Homo sapiens: one gene and its partners. The protein of the gene in region 3 interacts with the protein of the main gene of each other region in a biochemical or structural test. Each region holds a gene or a part of one and is shown on either strand. Other genes may lie near its edges. The genes, in order: RRP12, PNO1, RIOK1, BUD23, RPS21 and SLX9.

Evidence for each region.
Region 1: the proteins of RIOK1 (region 3) and RRP12 are reported together in a solved structure, tested with the Homo sapiens proteins (one study listed by BioGRID).
Region 2: the proteins of RIOK1 (region 3) and PNO1 are reported together in a solved structure, tested with the Homo sapiens proteins (one study listed by BioGRID).
Region 4: the proteins of RIOK1 (region 3) and BUD23 are reported together in a solved structure, tested with the Homo sapiens proteins (one study listed by BioGRID).
Region 5: the proteins of RIOK1 (region 3) and RPS21 are reported together in a solved structure, tested with the Homo sapiens proteins (one study listed by BioGRID).
Region 6: the proteins of RIOK1 (region 3) and SLX9 are reported together in a solved structure, tested with the Homo sapiens proteins (one study listed by BioGRID).

Annotation. Positions count from the first base shown.
Region 1 is NC_000010.11:97,373,813-97,377,469, reverse strand, and holds part of RRP12 (RRP12-like protein), read left to right. Parts: intron 1-3,575; coding exon 3,576-3,640; intron 3,641-3,657.
Region 2 is NC_000002.12:68,167,737-68,171,393, forward strand, and holds part of PNO1 (RNA-binding protein PNO1), read left to right. Parts: intron 1-3,657. UniProt on the Homo sapiens protein: Part of the small subunit (SSU) processome, first precursor of the small eukaryotic ribosomal subunit.
Region 3 is NC_000006.12:7,413,701-7,416,222, reverse strand, and holds part of RIOK1 (serine/threonine-protein kinase RIO1), read right to left. Parts: intron 1,986-2,522; coding exon 1,833-1,985; intron 1-1,832. UniProt on the Homo sapiens protein: Involved in the final steps of cytoplasmic maturation of the 40S ribosomal subunit. Involved in processing of 18S-E pre-rRNA to the mature 18S rRNA. Required for the recycling of NOB1 and PNO1 from the late 40S precursor.
Region 4 is NC_000007.14:73,693,481-73,696,195, forward strand, and holds part of BUD23 (18S rRNA (guanine-N(7))-methyltransferase), read left to right. Parts: intron 1-143; coding exon 144-189; intron 190-511; coding exon 512-570; intron 571-2,715.
Region 5 is NC_000020.11:62,385,688-62,389,036, forward strand, and holds RPS21 (small ribosomal subunit protein eS21), read left to right. Parts: upstream 1-1,415; 5' UTR 1,416-1,449; intron 1,450-1,633; 5' UTR 1,634-1,651; coding exon 1,652-1,701; intron 1,702-1,923; coding exon 1,924-1,987; intron 1,988-2,155; coding exon 2,156-2,227; intron 2,228-2,621; coding exon 2,622-2,677; intron 2,678-2,769; coding exon 2,770-2,779; 3' UTR 2,780-2,833; downstream 2,834-3,349. UniProt on the Homo sapiens protein: Component of the small ribosomal subunit. The ribosome is a large ribonucleoprotein complex responsible for the synthesis of proteins in the cell.
Region 6 is NC_000021.9:44,960,488-44,964,144, forward strand, and holds part of SLX9 (ribosome biogenesis protein SLX9 homolog), read left to right. Parts: intron 1-3,657. UniProt on the Homo sapiens protein: May be involved in ribosome biogenesis.

The DNA of each region.
Region 1 (3,657 bases), on a different chromosome or scaffold from region 3:
GCAACCTCTGCCTCCCAGATTCAAGCGATTCTCCTGCCTTAGCCTCCCAAGTAGGTAGGACTACAGGCATGTGCCACCACACCTGGCTCACTTTTTAAAAATTTCTTGTATTTTTAGTGCAGATGGGGTTTCACCATGTTGGCCAGGCTGGTCTCAAACACCTGACCTCAGAAAATCTACCTGCCTCGGCCTCCCAAAGTGCTGGGAGTACAGGCATGAGCCACCATGGCCAGCCTGTCACACTACTTTTTAATGACAGAGTTATTGTGATAGAAATCATACGTACCGTGGGCTGGGCACAGTGGCTCACACCTGTAATCCTAGCACTCGGGGAGGCCGAGGTGGGTGGATCACCTGAAGTCAGGAGCTTGAGACCAGCCTGGCCAACATGATGAAACCCCATCTCTACTAAAAGTACAAAAATTAGCCAGGCATGGTGGTAGGTGCCTATAATCCCACCTACTCGGGAGGCTGAGGCAGGAGAACGCTTGGACTCTGGGGGGCGGAGGTTGCAGTGAGCCAAGATCGCACCACTTCACTCCAGCCTGGGCAACACAGCGAGACTCTGTCTCAAAAAAAAAAAAAAAAGAAAAGAAAGAAATTGTATGGCCTGCCGAGCTTAAAGTACTGGTCCTTTTGCACAAAAAGTTGGCTGACTCCTGGTCTAGGGCAGTGGTTCTCAACAAGGAGGGTGATTTTGCTGCCTGTAGGACATTCAGCAATGCCTGGAGACATTTTTGGTTGTTACCGTTGGGGGATGGGTGCTCTGGCATCTAGTGGGTAGAGGCCAGGATGCTGCTAAGCACCCTGCAATGCACAGGACGACCTCACACAACAAAGAGTACTAGGCCCAAAATGTCCACATTGTCAAGATTGAGAAACCCTGCTCTAGGGCAGTTTCCTGATTTCACACATGATCTTGTAGAATATACAGGAAGTGCTTAAAGAAGAAAGTAAGGCCAAGCGCAGTGGCTCGTGCCTGTAATCTCAGCACTTTGGGAGGCTGAAGCGGGCAGATCATGAGGTCAGGAGTTCGAGACCAGCCTAAACAACATGGAGAAACCCCGTCTCTACTAAAAATACAAAAATTAGCTGGGCATGGTGGCACGCACCTGTAATCCCAGCTACTTGGGAGGCTGAGGCAGGACAATCGTTTGCACCCAGGAAGCAGAGGTTGCAGTGAGCCGAGATGACACCACTGCACTCCAGCCTGGGAGACAGAGCGAGACTTCATCTCAAAAAAAAAAAAAAAAAAAAGAAAGTAAAAGTCATTCAGTCTTCCCACCCAGAAATTGTTACTACTCAAGTTTTTAATGTATTTTCCTTTGCTTTGTTTGGGTCGGTTTGTTTGTTTGTTTGTTTGTTTTGAGACAGAGTCTTGCTCTGTTGCCCAAGCTGGAGTGCAGTGGTGCGATCTTGGCTCACTGCAACCTCCACCTCCCAGGTTTTCAAGCAATTCTGCCTCAGCCTCCTGAGTAGCTTCGTCTACAGGCGTGTACCATCACCCCTCGCTAATTTTTTTATTTTTAGTAGAGACAAGTTTTCGCCATGTTGGCCAGGCAGGTCTCGGACTCCTGACCTCAAGTGATCCACCCGCCTTGGCCTCCCAAAGTGCTGGGATTACAGGTGTGAGCCACCATGTCTGGCTGCATTTTTTTCTGTGTAAAAATAGTATTGTATTTCTACTCTGTTGGAATTAATGTGCACATATTAGTAACTTAAAGTTTTTCCTGATATTAAAAAGGAAAAATTTGTTCTATTTTCAATAGAAATATATGCCCATCAAAGAAAATACAGATGAACCCCCAAAATGAGGGTCATTACCATCATTAATGTTACCTATAAACCCTGGCATTATTCTTAAGGCTGATGTTATGTATTCCCTTTGTCCTGGTAATACTACACGCAGGTATCTGTCCTGAGAAGATAGACAAGTGCGTACTGATTTATGTTCCTAGCAAAGACGTGCCTGACAGTATTGGCTTATACTGGCAAAAACTGTAACACATCTAGTATCTTTCTCATTAGGGTTCCAGTTAAATTAGTTATGGTAAAGCCCTACTTTTGGCCAGATGCAGCAGCTTACGCCTGTAATCCCAACACTCTGAGAGTCTGAGGCAGAAGGATTGTGTGAGGCCAAGAGTTCAAGAACAGCCTGGGCAACATAGCAAGACCCTGTCTCTATAAAAATTTTTTTTTTTTTTTTTTAGTTAGCCAGGTGTGGTAGGCTCACCTGTAGTTCCAGCTACTTGGGAGACTGAGGAAAGAGGATTTCTTGAGCCCAGAAGTTCAAGGCCAGCCTGGGCAACAGAGTGAGACCTCCGTCTCTACAAAAATATTTTTTAAGTCCCACTTTGGGATATGATGTAGGCATTATAAAGAAAGAAAGAAACCACTAGGTAGGGACAGACAAGTTTAGCAGATGGTGAGTCGAACAGACACGGTTTATATCCCAACTCCGCCGCTCCACAGTTCGTGGCTTGGGGCAGGTTTTGTTTAATTTCCCAGGGTCTGCTCCTCATCTTAAAATGGGCAAGTTTTGTGAGGATTAAATGAAAAAGTCATGTGAAGTGCTCATTACAGACTACCACATAGTACTTGCTCAGTAAATGTTACCAGCTTTATTGTCAAGTAAACAAGGTTACAGAATGCTATATATATAGTATATTCCTCCCTATGGTTTTTTTTTTTTTTTTTTGAGACAGAGTCTCGCTCCGTCACCCAGGCTGTTGTGCAATAGCACGATCTCGGCTCACTGCAAGCTCCACCTCCCGGGTTCACTCCATTCTCCTGCCTCAGCCTCCCGAGTAGCTGGGACTACAGGTGCCTGCCACCACTCCCGGCTAATTTTTTGTATTTTTAGTAGAGACGGGGTTTCACCATGTTAGCCAGGATGGTCTCAATCTCCTGACCTCATGATCTGCCCGCCTCAGCCTCCCAAAGTGCTGGGATTACAGGTGTGAGCCACTGCACCCAGCCCCTGTTTATGTTTTACAAAGTGGGCATGTGGCTGGGTGCAGTGTTGCACACCTGTAATCCCAGCACTTTGGGAGGCCGAGGCACATGGATCGCTCAAACTTAGGAATTCGAGACCAGTCTGGGCAACATGGTGAAACCCTACGTCTACAAAAAGTTAGGTGGGTGTGGTGGCATGCACGCCTGTAGTCTGCTTCTTGGGAGGCTGAGGTAGGAGGATCGCGTGAGCCTGGGAGGTCAAGGCTGCAGTGAGCCCAGATTGCGCCACTGTATTCCAGCCTAGGCCACAAAGTGAGACCCTGTCTCAAACAAAACAAACAAACAAAAAAAATTGGGCATGTGTTTAAAGAAGTATAAAAAAGTAACAAGAAACAGAGGCTATCTCTGGGGGAGTAAGAGTATGGAGAGACGTTTGCTTTCTGTTTATTATAGGTTCATTTGAGTATTTTAGAATGAACAAGTATGATTTAATTCATGGAGATGGGGGGAAGTCACCCATATTCCTGTCCTCATCATTGGGCTTTTGGTTTGGTTTGGTAAATAAGGCTGTTGGCCAGGAGGGTGCTGGGCTCACACTCTGTCCCTCTGTCACACTGCAGCCATGGACCTGGCTCAGGCAGGCAGCACAGTGGAATCTAAGATCTACGACACACTCCAGTGGCAGGTAAGGGTCAGCTGGGG
Region 2 (3,657 bases), on a different chromosome or scaffold from region 3:
CTTTGGTGAGCAGAAGCTGCTTCTCCTGTTACCCTGACATTTTTAAAGCCACCTCTTTCTAACATTATCGAAGCATCCTTTGCTGGCGTTAAGTTCTCCAGCTTTAGATCCTTCATTTTCCTTTTGCTGTAAGTTGTCATATAATGACTTAATTTTTTTCTCCATCATATTAGACTCTATAGATGTGTCTTTCTTAGAACAATCCTGCACCCACATAAAAGCTGCATTTCCAATTTGAGATTGTCAAGAAAAGAATCACAAGATCTATAAATTTGGAGAGGAAACTTTATTTCTTAGAAAGGGTTGCAGTCTGCAGGGTGGCCATTCTGACAGGCTGGAAAGTATAGCCTTCAGCAGAGACCAAAAGCAGGCACTCTGAAGGAGGAAAGGATGAGACAGGAATTTATGCTGAATGCGTTGGCCAAGTATACTTATTTAACAGGTTATAGGAGGAGCTCTGAATATAAGAGGGGTCCTAATGCTTGTATACCGAGTAAATGTACAACCCCTGGTCGCTTTGGGGTGGAGACTTAACATTTAAAATACCTGACAATTAGATCCTGTATGTTACAAGATGAAATAGGGACAGGGACATGACAACTGAATGCACTGCCTCTGGAAGCTGGTAGTACCAGTCCATGGTCAGTGATCTCTTATCAGGAGATGTTACTGGGATCAGTCTCTTGTCCAATCAAAGCTGTAGTTACTGTTTGTGGAACAGAGTGTGGGAAGAGGGAAGCTGGGGTCAATCTGTATCTAGCTGTTGGTGAGCTGTAATTGTTTTAATATTGTTTATCACAAGGCCAGTGCTTGTTAAGCTGCTAGAGAAAAAAAAATATCCTGTGGCAATTAGAATGTCATTTACTCTTTAAGTGTAGGGTGTATGACTTAACCCTTGCCCAGGTGGTCTTAGGTCTTGTTTACAATTTGATATCTTATTGCCACAGTCTGTTCTGTCTTGCCTGGGCGCCTAGGGGCTTTATTTTTATTTTATAAGATAAAGGGGTATTTGGCAAAACTGCAGGTGTATTCATATCTGCTGTTATAGCTGCAGTGACAGCTTCATGAATTTCCTTTTCTTTTTTTTACAATGGTCCTATGGTATAGTCATTTATCTTGAAGTGGTGGGCAACTGCAACTGCAGGCCTCAGTCAACAGTACCTATCAAGCAATTCAGCTTTTTTCTTTTTTTTTTTTTTTTTTTTTTTTTGAGATGGAGTCTCCCTCTATCGCCAAGGCTGAAGTGCAGTGGTGCAATCTCGGCTCACTGCAACCTCCACCTCCCGGGTTCAATGGATTCTCCTGCCTCAGCCTCCTGAGTAGCTGCAACTATAGGCATTTGCCACCATGCCCAGCTAATTTTTTTGTATTTTTAGTAGAGATGGGGTTTCACCGTGTTAGGCAGGATGGTCTCAATCTCGTGACCTCGCAGTCCACCCGCCTCGGGCTCCCAAAGTGCTGGGATTACAGGTGTGAGCCACTGCGCCTGGCCAGTTCAGCTTTTTCTTGTACTGTCATGACTTTTCTGTGCTGCTTTGGAGCACTCCCAACATCACTAGTGGCACTTTATGTGGGACCCACGTTGGGTGGGTCCTATGGTCCCAAAGCTTACAATATTGCACTAAGATTAAAAATAGGCAAGAACTGCGAGAAATCACTTTCTACTGTGATAGACAGTTTATTGGAGAGTCAAAACTGCTTATGGGAGATAATCAGCATCACATGTGATCAGCATCACATGGCATTCTAAGTGGATACTTGCAACACCTGAGCTCACCACAAGAGCAATAGGTGGTGGCTGTGAAGTTGTCGTACAGTATGCACTACAGTTAATTTTATGGAGTTATGATTTAATACTGCATCTTTGCATTTGTTTCCATTTCTCTTGACTACAAATGGCATCATATATGGCTTGTGTTTGTGTGCGTAAGTTTTAATTTTAACTTTTTATAATAGATTTGTGTATATTTTACGGTAGTAAATAAGATAGACTAGTACCTACATACAGTTTATGCATTCATGACGTAGCTTTTTCTTAATTTTTTTGACATTTCTACGATACTTAGCTCCTCTCTGGGTTTTTTCACATCTCCAAAATATCTTCCAGTATATGTGTTGAAAAAAATTTGTGTGTAACTGGACCTGTGCAGTTCAAACCTATTATTCAAAAGTCAGCTGTATTACATCTTGTTTATCCAGTCACAGTAGATGGACTTTTGGGTTGTTTTCAGTTTGTGGCTATGAGAATAATGTTGCTACTGAATTACTTATATCTTTTGTGTTTTCTTACAAACTGAATTACAGACTACTTGAAATTAAGAGATGTACTATCTCTTGCTTTTGCTGTAGACAGGCTAGTTGGAAATCCACGTTTAACAGTTTATATTAATTATAATAAAGCTGTTAGATGGGCTGTTGTGTACCTATAAAAGTTATTTTTGATGAGTTGCCAATAACCTGGCAAAATACAGTAAGTATAATGTGAGCCAGATAGAAAACTAAAAACAATTGGTTCCAGGTATGTTTAATACAGCAGATGGGAAATGATGTTGCCTCTGTGTCTTGAAGCCTCCATTCCTTTCCAACTATTGCCCCATTACTTTGGTTCTTTGTGCAGCAAAACTACTCCCATCTGTTCTTGTTGTCTTTATTTCCTCATCTGTCATGCTCTGTTTTAAATAATTTTAATCAAAGTTAAACATACACATAGTTTTAAAAAGCCAAATATTGGCCGGGCGTGATGGCTCACACCTGTAATCCCAGCACTTTGGGAGGCCGAGGCGGGCGGATCACAATGTCAGGAGATCGAGACCATCCTGGCTAACACGGTGAAACCCCGTCTCTACTAAAAATACAAAAAAATTAGTCGGGCGTGGTGGTGGGCACCTGTAGTCCCAGTTACTTGGGAGGCTGAGGCAGGAGAATGGCGAGAATCCGAGAGGCGGAGCTTGCAGTGAGCCGAGATTGCGCCACTGCACTCCAGCCTGGGGGACAGAGCAAGACTCCGTCTCAAAAAAAAAAAAAAAAAAAAAAGCCAAAAATTTCTACTGCCTACCTCCATTTCACCCTTTTCAGGGGAACCAATTTCAACTCTTTTAGCTTATCTTAAAAAATTATTTGTCTCTGTATTTCCAGATATTTTGTTCATATACAGCCTCTTATTTTTCAGATTCACTATTGACTTTCTACCATCAAAGATGAAGATTTAGCTGTCTTTCACCCCCTTACTTCCACTGCACACACTCAGCCTTTCTGTCACTCCGATTTATTCTTCTCTGTCCTCCTGATGGTCCCCTTGTGGTTTTTGTTAGATTCGTGTTCAGTATTACCTGAAAACAGAAATCAGTGCTCAGTGTACTTATAGCTGAGCCAGGTGAAATACTGTGACTGCCTTATCTTTCTTTTGCAGCATTGTTTTCACTTGAGGAAGTAACTCTTATGTGTCTATGTCCTTTCTTCATTTTCGTCGTACTAATTCAGTAAGAAGCTATACGTTGTCTGTATCTCCTCTTGATGTATTCGAATGCATCTAATATTTGAGAAATCTCTCCTGGAGATGTTCTGTTCCAAAAACGCCCCCATGCTTTCTGCGTGCATTCTGGCTGCACAGCCATCATCCTGGGTTCCCTGTCCCCTGCCTCTTGGAGTCTCTTTCCC
Region 3 (2,522 bases):
GACATATGAGAAAATATGCTAGCAGCTGAGTATGTCCCTCAGAAGTCTTGGGACCCACATTGTATAAGGTTTAAAGGATTAGACTAAGATGGAATAATAATAGTCACATAGCACTCAGTCAGCAGTGTCTCTATGTCTATGGCTAGGGATTAAAGAAATACAAGAGTCCCTTCTTATCCATGGGGGATATGTTCCAAGACTCCCAGTGGATGCTTAAGACTGTGGATAGTGCCAAACCCTATATATACTATGCTTCTACCTATACATACGTACCTATGATGAGGTTTAATTTATAAATTAGGCACAGTAAGAGATAATAACTAATAACAGAATGGTAACAATATACTATAGTAAAAGTTATTTGAATGTGGTCTCTCTCTCCAAATATCCCACAGTATCATACTCATGTGACAGTAGCTTCTTCATTGGCAGATGCAGCCTCTCTGGTAATTTTTCTATTTTTTAGTCCAAACCTATTCCTGAATCTGTGTAACTATTCCTTACAGTAAATGGCCTGGTGGCACTCATTTCAGGGGAACCCTTGCTGAAACCTTTGAAACCTTCGTATAGGCTCAGTGCTTTCTGGTGCAACATGGTGCCATCAACTGGAAGATGTTTTTGTTTACGTCTTTCACCCACAAATTTCATGCCTTTTCCATCTTAACTAAGCAGTTATCACATGCTATGGTCCTAAGTTTTGCAGTTTGGGGTGAGACAGCAAAACCAGCACAAACATCTTTTTCCTTCTCCACAATGTCACGGATAAAAGATTCTCACCAGCAACTTCAGCATATGATTCTTTTCCTTTTATTTATTTTTTTGAGACAGAATCTCACTCTGTCACCCAGGCTGGCGTGCAGTGGCATGATCAGCTCACTAGAACCTCAAACTTCTGGACTCAAGGGATCCTCTTGCCTTAGCCTCCCAAGTATTTGGGACTACAGGTGCTCATCACCAATGTTTTAATAGAGACGGGGTATCACTCTATTGCCCAGACTGGTCTGGAGTGATCCGCCCTCCTTGGCCTCCCAAAGTGCTAGGATTACAGGCATGAGTTCCTTGTTAAGTCAAGAATGGTCACCTTTCCACTTAAAGGAAGCATTTTATGGCTTCTCTAAAGCATACCTGAAATTCCAACATCACTACTCCTGTAATTTACGGTCATTATTAAGCAAAGTAAGGGTTACTTGCACACAAGCACCACAACATCACAGCAGCTGAACTGATAGCCAAGAAGGCTACTAAGTGACTAACGGGTGGGGAGTGTCGACAGTGTGAAGACGCTGGACCACGTGATGATTCACATTCCAGGCAGGATGGAGGAGGACAGCATGAATTTCATCACACTACTTAGGACGGTGAGCAATTTAAAACTTATAAATTGTTTACTTCTGGAATTTTCCATTTAATATTTGCAAACCAAGGCTGACTGCAGGGAACTGAAACAGTAGAAACTGAAAGCATGGATGGGGGGACTATTATATGGTCTTTCAGATTCCAGAAACATCAAGCTGGGCTATAAATCCCCCTGAAATGGCTCTTCAGTATTTACCCTGGGTCAACTCTAACATCACTTGTACTTCATGTGAAATGTACTGAATTTAGTGCGTGCTCTCTCTAGGCAATGCCCAAGGTGCTCTGATGAGCAGCCCAATCTCAAGATAATGTTACCACCAAAAGTCAAGTTCACACTTAGGTATTAAAACTGTAATTAGAGGTACTTATCAATAATGTTTTCAGCCATCATAATCTAGCTAGATCCTTGAGCAAAGAGAAATAAGAGCGGCTGTGCTCCCACACTAAAGAAAAGGGGAAGGTATTTCATTGCTTACTTTTTTATCAATGTCAGGGTCCGTGGTGTGTTTCTTGGGGCGGGCATGGTCTCCCTGCTCTTCAGAGTCTGTGTCAGAGCACTCAGAGCTTCCAATATCTTCTGAATCAGAACAAGTCCTTTCCTCCACTTGATTTTCTAGGAGTGCAGGGACCTTGAAATTATTAAAGAACCATGTTATTCTAAACAACACACAAACCAAGTTATGTGTTGTTGTTAAATGTGTTAATGCCAGAATTCAGATTTTAGGCTCGCAAATATATGTTAAAAACTAACATCCTGTACTGAAACATCAAAACACCAGAATGAACATCAGGAGGGAAACATGAAAGTAGCCACTCCAAGTAAGGCTCCAGAACATACTCAAATGAAGGAACCAGGGCTTTACTGCGTGACCTAGATCAACAACAGAGCTGTTCTCCTTCTTTCAGCTAATCAGGAGCATTTAGTTGGGATTGGGAAAGAGGCAAAATATACATAGAGGTAGAAAATGAAGATTTATATGGATAACTTCACAGCTGTTTTCCTGTGAACCACATTTCTAGCAATAAACTAATCCAATTGGGAGGGAAAACAATATGTGAAGAAGAGAAATTTTCATTACTTCCTGAAATTCAGCAGTTGTCTAATACAGCGCTTCCTAGCAGTTTTTAAGAGTGAGGTTTCCCTTTTATAAGAAAAAAACAGATCT
Region 4 (2,715 bases), on a different chromosome or scaffold from region 3:
GCCACTCAGTGGTGCAGAGGAGTGCTGGGGTGTGGGTCACCAGGGTCCAGGCAGGCGGAGGGGGTGCGGGTGGGGGAGCTGAGGGCTTGTCTCCCTGTGGGGCTTTCTCCACCCAACCCTCACTTTGCACTTTCTCCTTTCAGATTCTACCTCTGCTTGTTTTCTGGGCCTTCGACCTTTATACCAGAGGTGAGGGACACTGGGTTTGCAGGCAGGCCTGTGTCTTTTGACTTCCAGGCAGTGGGGCTCAGCCTGCAGAGCCTGCTGGGAGAACACTGGTGGGGAAGCAGGGCCCAGCCCCAGAGTGCAGACCCTGGAGTGCTCACATCCTCTGGAATCTGGAGGCAGAGACCTCTGCTCTGCAGGTCCCAGAAAGGCGTGTCAGTTCCTTCTCGTGGGACTGGACCTCGTCCCTGTCGGAAGGGTCAGGCCTGGGTGCCTGGGCTTCTGGAGTGGGGCAGATGGTTTGAGAACTCTCCAGGGTGACCTGAGTGCACTTTGGTTCCTGCAGGGGCTGAGTGAAAATCAGGATGAAGTTGAACCCAGGGAGTCTGTGTTCACCAATGAGAGGTAAAGCAACTGCTGAAGCCTGCCCCGGCTGCAGCGGGGGCTGCCACATTTGTTAGACATGGACTTTCTCTCTGCCCTCACCCAAGCCTCTCAGGTCACATGCAGCAGGGACACCAAGGTGACGGTAGAAACATCAGGTCCCATTTGGACTGTGCCTGTTTGGGGCTAGGGGTTTGGGGTCCTGGATGTCTGGGTGCAGCCATGCAGCCTGGACTCCCTTTGTGAGCCCACACATGCCCCTTCCCCTTGCCACGCCTGGCAGGCTGTCTCCTTCTTTTCTGATGCTGCCCTCCACCTGCATCTGGGACCCTCTCCCTTGGGTGCTGTGGCTCTCCCTTCCTTCCTGCATCCTCATCTTGACTCTCCTGGGTCACTGCTGTCGGCACACAGACATGCTGCACAATTTCTCCTTTTCTAGAAAAGTTCCTTCCTTAACCCCATAACAACAACTAACCACCCCGTTGTTGCTTCCCTTCATAGCAGAACTCAGACCTGCCTCTTCTTCCCCTCCCACCATTCTCTCAATCCACTTCTCAGGCTGACAATTCTGTCTCATCACAAATTGTTCTTGTCAACTCCACCACCAATTTCCATCAAGCCACATCTGGTCACTTGTGACTTTTTTTCATGTCCTTAATGTGCCTGCTCGGTAGGGTCAAAGACAGCAGTGCGCTCCCTCCTTGACGCTTCCTTCACTTGGCCTTCCACCCACCATCGTGGTTTCCTCAGCCTTCCTGGCTGCTCCTCACTCCACTGCTGCTTCCTCTTCGAGTGCTGGGCCCAGCCTGGATTGGATCCCTTCTCTACCTGTGGTGCTGTAAATGCCAGCCGGAAGGTCCTAATTCCCAAATGTGTATCTTCAGTCTCTTGCCACCTGGGGTTTCCCAATGCCCCCTCAGTGTCTATACCTGGAGTTTCCATGGGTAGTCTCTCTCTGTTACCCAGGCTAGAGTGCAGTGGTGGAATCTTAGCTCACTGCAGCCTCGAACTCCTGGGCTCAAATGATCCTCCTGCCTCAGCCTCCCAAGTAGCTGAGACTACAGGTGCATGCCACCATGCCTGGTTAATTTTTAAAGTTTTTGGTAGAGATGAGGTCTTGCCATGTTGTTCAGGCTGATCTTGAACTCCTGGCCTCAAGCAATCCCCCTGTCTCGGCCTCCCAAAGTTCTGGGATGACTGATGTGAGCCACCATGCCTGGCCATCCTCCATTCTTTTTTTTTTTTGAGATGGAGTCTCACTCTTTCCCCCCAGGCTGGAGTGCGGTGGCTTGATCTCGGCTCACTGCAACCTCTGCCTCCCAGGTTCCAGCGATTCTCTTGCGTCAGCCTCCCGAGTAGCTGGGATTGCAGGCGCCCGCCCAACTAATTTTTTGTGTTTTTAGTAGAGACAGGGTTTCACCATGTTGGCCAGGCTGTTCTCAAACTCCTGACCTCGTGATTCGCCCGCCTCGGCCTCCCAAAGTGCTGGGATTACAGGTGTGAGCCACTGCGCCTGGCCTCATCCTCCATTCTTTACCATTCTTGATCATTCCTGTCTTTCCCTACATTTCACATCTTGTCAGCCTGTCATTGAGCCCTGCTGTCCGTCCCTCAGTGTGTATCCCCGTGCTGACCCTCCCTGCTTCCAACGAGCCTAATCCAGCACTGCCCCTAGCCTGGATTGCTGAACAGCTGCCTGTGTTGTCTCCTTGCCTTTGCAGTCTTTGCCTCTTTCAGATTATTTTCTGCATAGCAGCAAGACTGGTCTTTTTCTTTTTTTCTAAAATGTAAGTTGTATCTTGTCATTGCTCTTTTAGTGCCTTCATTGCAGTTGTGCTCCCCGCTCATGTTGATTTTCCTTAACACCCTTCACTGCTCTAAGTCATACACATACCAGTTGACTTGGTTATTATTTGTATCTCCAGCTAGAGTGAAAACTTGGTGAGGACTGGTATTATATCCCTGACATTAAAAATAGTGTCTTGTTAGTAAAAAGTGCTCAGTATTTTTCTGAATGAATAATTGATTATAAGGTAGTGAAGAGGGAGGTTATATCTGAGGTCCAGTTGACATGAGGGAAAGGTCTTAAGACCTTTAAGACATTTAAGAGGAAAAATGAGCCCAAAATGCATGTGTTTGGAAGGCCCACAGCTGGGCACAGCCATG
Region 5 (3,349 bases), on a different chromosome or scaffold from region 3:
TAAATGCTTGAGGTGATGGATGCTCCATATACCCCATGTGATTACTACGCACTGCATGCCGGTATGAAAATATCTCATGTGCCCCATAAATGTACACACCCACTATGTACCCAAAAAATTAAACATAAAAAAACTTTTTTTTTTTGAGACGCAGTCTTGCTCTGTCGCCCAGGCTGGAGTGCAGTGGCGGGATCTCAGCTCACTACAAGCTCCGCCTCCCGGGTTCACGCCATTCTCCTGCCTCAGCCTTCCGAGTAGCTGGGACTACAGGCGCCTGCCACCACGCCCAGCTAATTTTTTGTATTTTTAGTAGAGATGGGGTTTCACCATGTTGGCCAGACGGGTCTCGAACTCCTGACCTCAGGTGATCCACCCACCTCCGCCCAAAGCGCTGGGATTACAGGCCTGAGCCACCGCACCTGGCCACTGAGTCTTAAGTTTTCTGAGGCTAGTTCTACATCCTAGGATCATGTCCCCCGCCCAGAGAAGACCCCAACATAGGCCGCGCTGCTCCCTCCGTCTACCGGTTTGGAGCTTCTCCTGGCAACAGGGTTCAGGCTACTAACAAGGCCTTCCTCAAGACCCCACCCATAACCAACGACCATACTTCGTGGGTCCATCTTTGTAACATCTTTACTTCCTTGGAGCAAATTCCCAGGAATGGGTTTTCGGGGTCCAAGGGTATGCACCTCTAGCACTACGACAAACGCGGCCAACACGCTTCAGGGAAACGGTGCCCCAGTTTGCATTCTGCTTCCCCTGCCCTGCCCTGGGGGTCTGACTGGTGAAACATGGGATGGCAGAGTGGTCGGGTGTTTCAGATTCCACGGTGGGCCGGGGTCTTTTCCTACCCTCGGGAGCCGTCTGAATTTCTCCTCTGCCGAGTTCCTGCGGGTGTCCTTCGCCCACCGGCCCGGGGGAGTGAGTAGCAGGCACCAGGTGAGCAGGCCTCCGCTCGCAGCGGCTACGTGCACGGGCAGGAGCACCGCCCCACGCCCCAGGTGGCCGCAGGGTGAGGGGACCGGAGGGCGGGAGGCGCACAATGGGGGGCACGCCCGTATCTCTAGCCCGGCCGGCAGCGGGCAGCGAGGCTCAGTCCTCGCCCCTTCTCCCAGCTGCTATTCGGGGCTCCCGAGGCGCTCAGAGGGGTCGACTGCGTCCGTGGGGCACAACCCAGGGGCCAGGCTAAGACGCCACACACGGCAACGACCCTCAACGACAACGACCCCCACGACGCCCCGCGCCCCAGGGCCAGCAGGCTGGGGTCCGAGAACCTCCTTGCCGGAAGCGGAAGTGCGTCACGGCGACGGCCGGCAAGCACGCACCGCGCAGACTCGCTGTGGTGGCGTGACCCGGAAGCGCTCGCCGAGGCCCCTCCTTGCCCGCCGATATCTCTGCCGGGTGACTAGCTGCTTCCTTTCTCTCTCGCGCGCGGTGTGGTGGCAGCAGGTGTGGCGCGCGGCGCGGGCTTCGGGCTCAGGGCTGGGGCTGGGGCGGGAGTGGGGGCTTGGACGCGGGGGACGGGGTGCGGGGTGCTGGGTGCGGCTGGGGCCGTGACCCTAGGGGCCGGTTTGCGCCGGGAGCCGGGGCACGGTTCCGGCCGTACTCACGGCGCCGCGCGGTGACTCCCCAGGCGCAGCCCAGCCTCGAAATGCAGAACGACGCCGGCGAGTTCGTGGACCTGTACGTGCCGCGGAAATGGTAAGCGCCCCCCACATGCCTCTCTTCCGTCCTTACCTAACCACCACGTCCCCTCGCCTGCCCTTGTTCCCCCACACCCCTCCCGTCCTTACCTCGTCACGTCCCTAACTTGTCCTGCCCCCGACGTTACTCTTTTCCATTCATATACCCCCAACCTCCCTCGTCCCCTCTTTCATTCTTACCGCCCAAGTCCCCTCTGCTCACTGCGCCCTTTCTCCACAGCTCCGCTAGCAATCGCATCATCGGTGCCAAGGACCACGCATCCATCCAGATGAACGTGGCCGAGGTGAGCTGGGAGCCCGGGAGGCGGGAAGGTTGTGATATATGTGCGGGAAAGGCAGGCTGTCCCATTGTGGAGGAGCCCCTGGGGTGAAGGTACAGGCAGAGGCTGGCTTTGAGGATTGGTGTTTCCCAAACCTGGGGGAGTGGTTTGTGACCCTTCTTCTCTTTCTAGGTTGACAAGGTCACAGGCAGGTTTAATGGCCAGTTTAAAACTTATGCTATCTGCGGGGCCATTCGTAGGATGGTGAGTGTTTCCCTGGGCTTTGCTCATCACTTCGGGACATCGTGGACTTTACCGTGCGCATTGGAGTGTGTGATGGTGCCTGAGTAGATCTGCTGGCAGAGTAGTTTGAGCCAGCTGGACTGGGCTGGCCGCCTGCCGCTTCTTGAGGGTGGAAGAGGGGTGCTCTGAGAAGACACTCAGGCAGCAGACTCTGCCTCTCACTAGGAGGTGCCCCCCCGACCCCGCTCCACCATAGTCAGGCTGCAGGCTGCCCCGGGAGAGGTGGCTCCCCTTCTGCGCCTGTCTCCATTCGCTCAGCGGGGGAGAGACGTGGGCTGGTGGCACAGCTGACCTTCTGCCATCTCAGGCAGCCGGAGTGGAAATATTCTTAGTGTGCTTTTTTTTTTTTCTTAAGGGTGAGTCAGATGATTCCATTCTCCGATTGGCCAAGGCCGATGGCATCGTCTCAAAGTAAGGTTGGGGGCTCACATTTGGGCAGAGTGAGTGGACTAGGACTGCTCCAGAGGCGTGGTCTTAACGTTGTCCTTTTCCCCTGGTTCTAGGAACTTTTGACTGGAGAGAATCACAGATGTGGAATATTTGTCATAAATAAATAATGAAAACCTACCTGTGCAGGTTCATTCTGTGTCTGTAGGCCCAGGGTTGAGGTTTTGCTGTCAGTGGGTGACGGGTGGGGTAGGGTACCCAGTTAGTTGAAAGGAGACAAGCTGTGAAACATATTGCAAAACTGAGGTTTAAAGGACAAATACATTATCCATTTAAAAACAGATATCTAAGACAAAATAACTCAAACATTCTGAGGTCTGATACTTGCTTATGCACACTGACATCCACAACTGCTACCGGTGCGGAAGCAACGCCAGGCCTGGTTCTGTATAGTCACAGCCGAGCTGAACACCTTAGCTCCGACACCTGGATGTGTTCTAGAGAATGACAGGCTGAGACTGTAGTTTGGTTTAACTACTGGCTTTGTTGCAATAATCCTCGAATACCACACAGTGGCAGCTTTTGGCATCATAAAAATGGGACATAACTGAAGGGAAGGCTTCACACATCACAAAGACCGGGTTGGTTAATGACTAAATCTCACTACATGAATACGCAATCTTAAATTACTGTGCT
Region 6 (3,657 bases), on a different chromosome or scaffold from region 3:
TCGGCTCCTTGTTTGTAAAAATTACCTATTTTTGTTCCCCACCGTGAAATTTTTTATTGTGGAAGTAACCTGTGCTCGTGGAGTTTTTATGGTTCAGAAGTGCCTGCAGTGGTATGTGAAATCCTTCCAGGCCTTGCCCGCGGTGAAAACAGTGTCTGCGCATAGCGGCGTGGGTGTGGGCAGGGCCCCTGGTGTCCCCAGACCCTTTCAGGCCTGTGGCTCCCTCTTTTCTGAGGTCAGCCTTGCCACGTGCTCCCAGCTGCACGTCTCCGCAGGCTGAAAGCCACACTTCCCACTCAGGTTGTTTTGGAGTATCTCCTTATTTTTCGTGATGCTGGATATTTGCCAGTGTTTTTCTAAGATTGTTTCTCGTCAAAATTATTTTGTATTTTTCGGTTATCTTTTTAGTGTGATTCTGCTGACTTTGTGAAATTAATTTGGAATATTTTCTTTTTTATGTTATCTGCTTTATTTTTTCCTTGGAGGTTTTAAAGAAAATGTATGTTTTTCAGAGGTAGGACCTAGAAAACTTTGTCAGTTTCTTTTGTGATTATTAGTTTTATGGTTTCTATCCCTTTTTGGATATTTCTTAGGGAAATGATTCATTCCTCCATTTTCTTTTTCACAGTTCCTAGCATAGCTGTGAAAGTGGATTTGGACGGGCTACTGGACTGTGGCCATTTGGACCCTGATTTTCTAGGCTGTAATTCTTTGATGATGTGTAAATTTTATTCCATGGCACTTGGTCCTTTTTTTTTGTTTTTTCACAACTTGAGTCAATTTTGGCCACTCATAAAATGATCGAATTTGTCTGAGGATGGTGTCTCATGCCTGTAATCCCAGCACTTTGGAAGGTTGAGATGGAAGGATCACCTACGCCCAGGAGTTTCAGACTAGCCTGGGCAATATAGCGAGACCTTGTCTCTACAAAAAATGTAAAAATTAGTCAGATTAGGTGGTGTATGCCTCTGAGCCTCTAGTCCTAGCGACTTAGGAGGCTGAGGTAGGAAGATCGCTTCAACCCAGGAGTTTGAGGCTGCAGTGAACCGTAATTGCACTAGTGCACTCCAGCCTGGGTGACAGAGTGGGTCCTTGTCTCTAAATAATGTTAATGATCAAATTTAGTCAGATCTCAATCTTCATATGTTAGTTGCCTTCTTATTAAATATTCTGTTTTCTTTATCGTTCTTTATTTGTATCTCCACCTTCATTTCTGATTAAATTAAGAAGTTTTGTCTCTTCCATTTAATAATTAATGTATTTAATAACCAATTCTACTCTTTTGTCTTCAAAATTATTTGTTTTTATTTTGATCACTCCCGTTTTAGCTTTCTTTGGGTTTCAGTTACTCTGCTTATCTGTTTGTATATGTTTTGTTCAGGAGTGAAAGGCTGTAAGTTATCTCTAAATACAGCTTTAGCTACATTTCCCAAGTTACTTTTACTTTGTATTTTATTATGAAAAATTTTATTTAGGAAAGTGGGAAGAATTTTATAGGGAATACCCTGTACCCACCACACAGATTTTACAATCTTTATTACATAACCGTTCATCTAGCAGTTTCTGTCCATCTACCAACATGGGTTTTTAAAAATGCGTTTCAAAGTAAATGGCAGACATCAGTACACTCCACCCCAAATAATTCTGCTAGAGTTCATGGTTCTTTTTTTTTCTTTTTCTTTTGAAGATTGTATTTACATAAAATGAAATGCAAATCTAAAGTGTGCCATTCAATGATTGCTGACAAATGTTGTAGACACCTGTGCAGCTGAAATCCTGTTCAGGTTATGGACCATCACCACCATTCCCCGACAGTCACGCACCCCCCCAGTCAATTACCTCTCCCACTGGCCCCAGAGGTAACAACTGCTGTGTCACCCTTTGTCGTCCACAGTTGAGCTTTTCTTGCCTTAGACTCTGTATAAATGGAATCATGTAGGATGCACTCTTTCTGCATCTGGCTGCTTTTGCTCAGCGTAATGGTTTTGAAACCCATCCAGGCTGCATGTAGCAGCAGTCCATGCCTTTTGATTGCTGAGAAGTATTTCATTGTATGAATACACCATTTGTTACTCACTTTCCTGCTGATGGGCACCTGGGCTTTTTTCCATTTTTAGCTACTGTGAATAAGGCTGCTCTGAACATTCTTTACAAGTCTTTTTGTGGACATGTTTTCGTTTCTCTTGGGTAAGTGCTGAGGAATGGAATGCTGGGTCATAGGGTAGGTGTATGTTTAGTTTTATAAGCAGCTGCCAGACGCTTTTCTAGAGTGGTTGTACACTCACACTCCCACCAGAGCCTGTGAGAGTTCTCCTGGCCCTCAGCTTTGCCAACACATGGCCTGCCGTCTCCTCAGCCTCGGCCGTCTGGTAATCATGAAATGGTATCTCACGGTGGTACTCATTTCCGTTGCCACCAAAAGAGCATTTACATGTGCTTACTGTCCATTTGTGTTTCAGCGTCAGTGAAATTCATTTTTCATGAGGCTTTTTGTCTTTTTATTATTGAGCTCTAAGAGTTCTTTGTCCTAGAGTCCAGTCTTTGGTTGGATATGTGTTTTACAGATGTTTTTCCCAGACTGTGACTTGCCTGTTCATTTTCTTTCTTTTTTTTTTTTTTTGAGATAGAGTCTTGCTCTGTCGCCAGGCTGGAGTGCAGTGGTGCGATCTTGGCTCACTGCAAGCAACACCTCCTGGGTTCAAGCGATTCTTCTGCCTCAGCCTTCTGAGTAGCCGGGACTACAGGCACCCGCCACCGTGCCCGGCTAATTTTTTTGTATTTTTAGTAGAGATGGGGTTTCACCGTGTTAGCAGGATGGTCTCGATCTCTTGACCTCGTGATCCGCCCGCCTTGGCCTCCCAAAGTGCTCGGATTACAGGCGTGAGAACTTTTTTTTTTTTTTTAAATAAACGAGAGTTTAATTTTGAGAAGTTTAATTTATATTAGTTATTGTGTGTGTGTATATGTATGTGTGTGTGTCCTATTTAAGAAAACTTTGCCTAATCCCAAGTCATGAAGATATTATTCCTGTTTTCTTCTAAAAACTTTATAGTTTGAGCTTTCATATTGGTTTTTTTTTTCTATCTTGAATTGTTTGTCTATGTGGTGTTAGTGGTTAAGTTCCTTTTTTCCCCCTAATATGGATATTCAGCTGTTCCAGCACCATTTGTTATAAGTACTTTTCTTTCCTTATTGGATTGTTTTGTTGCCTTTGTGAAAAATCAGAAAGTCTCATAAGTGTGGATCTGTTTCTAGGCTGTCTTCTGTTCCATTGATCTATTTGTTGTACCTTAGCAAAAACCAGACTGTCTTGATTACCATAGCTTTAGGATTAATCTGGAAGTCAGATAACATAAGTCCTTTTTGTTGGTTCGTCTGTCTTGAGGTTGTTTTGGATATTCTAAGTCCTTGGCATTTCCATATAAATTATCATTAGCTTGTCTATTTCTTTAAAAACAACAACAAAAACCTAGTGGGGTTATGATTGGGATTTCATTGAATCTATAGATCAGTTCAGAATTACCATCTTAGCAAAGCAGATCTTCAAATTCATGAACATAGTATATCTCACCATTTAAATTTCATCATCAATGTTATTCAGTTTTAGTGTAGAGATCTTACATCTTATAATAAGCTTATTGCTAAGTATTTTATAGT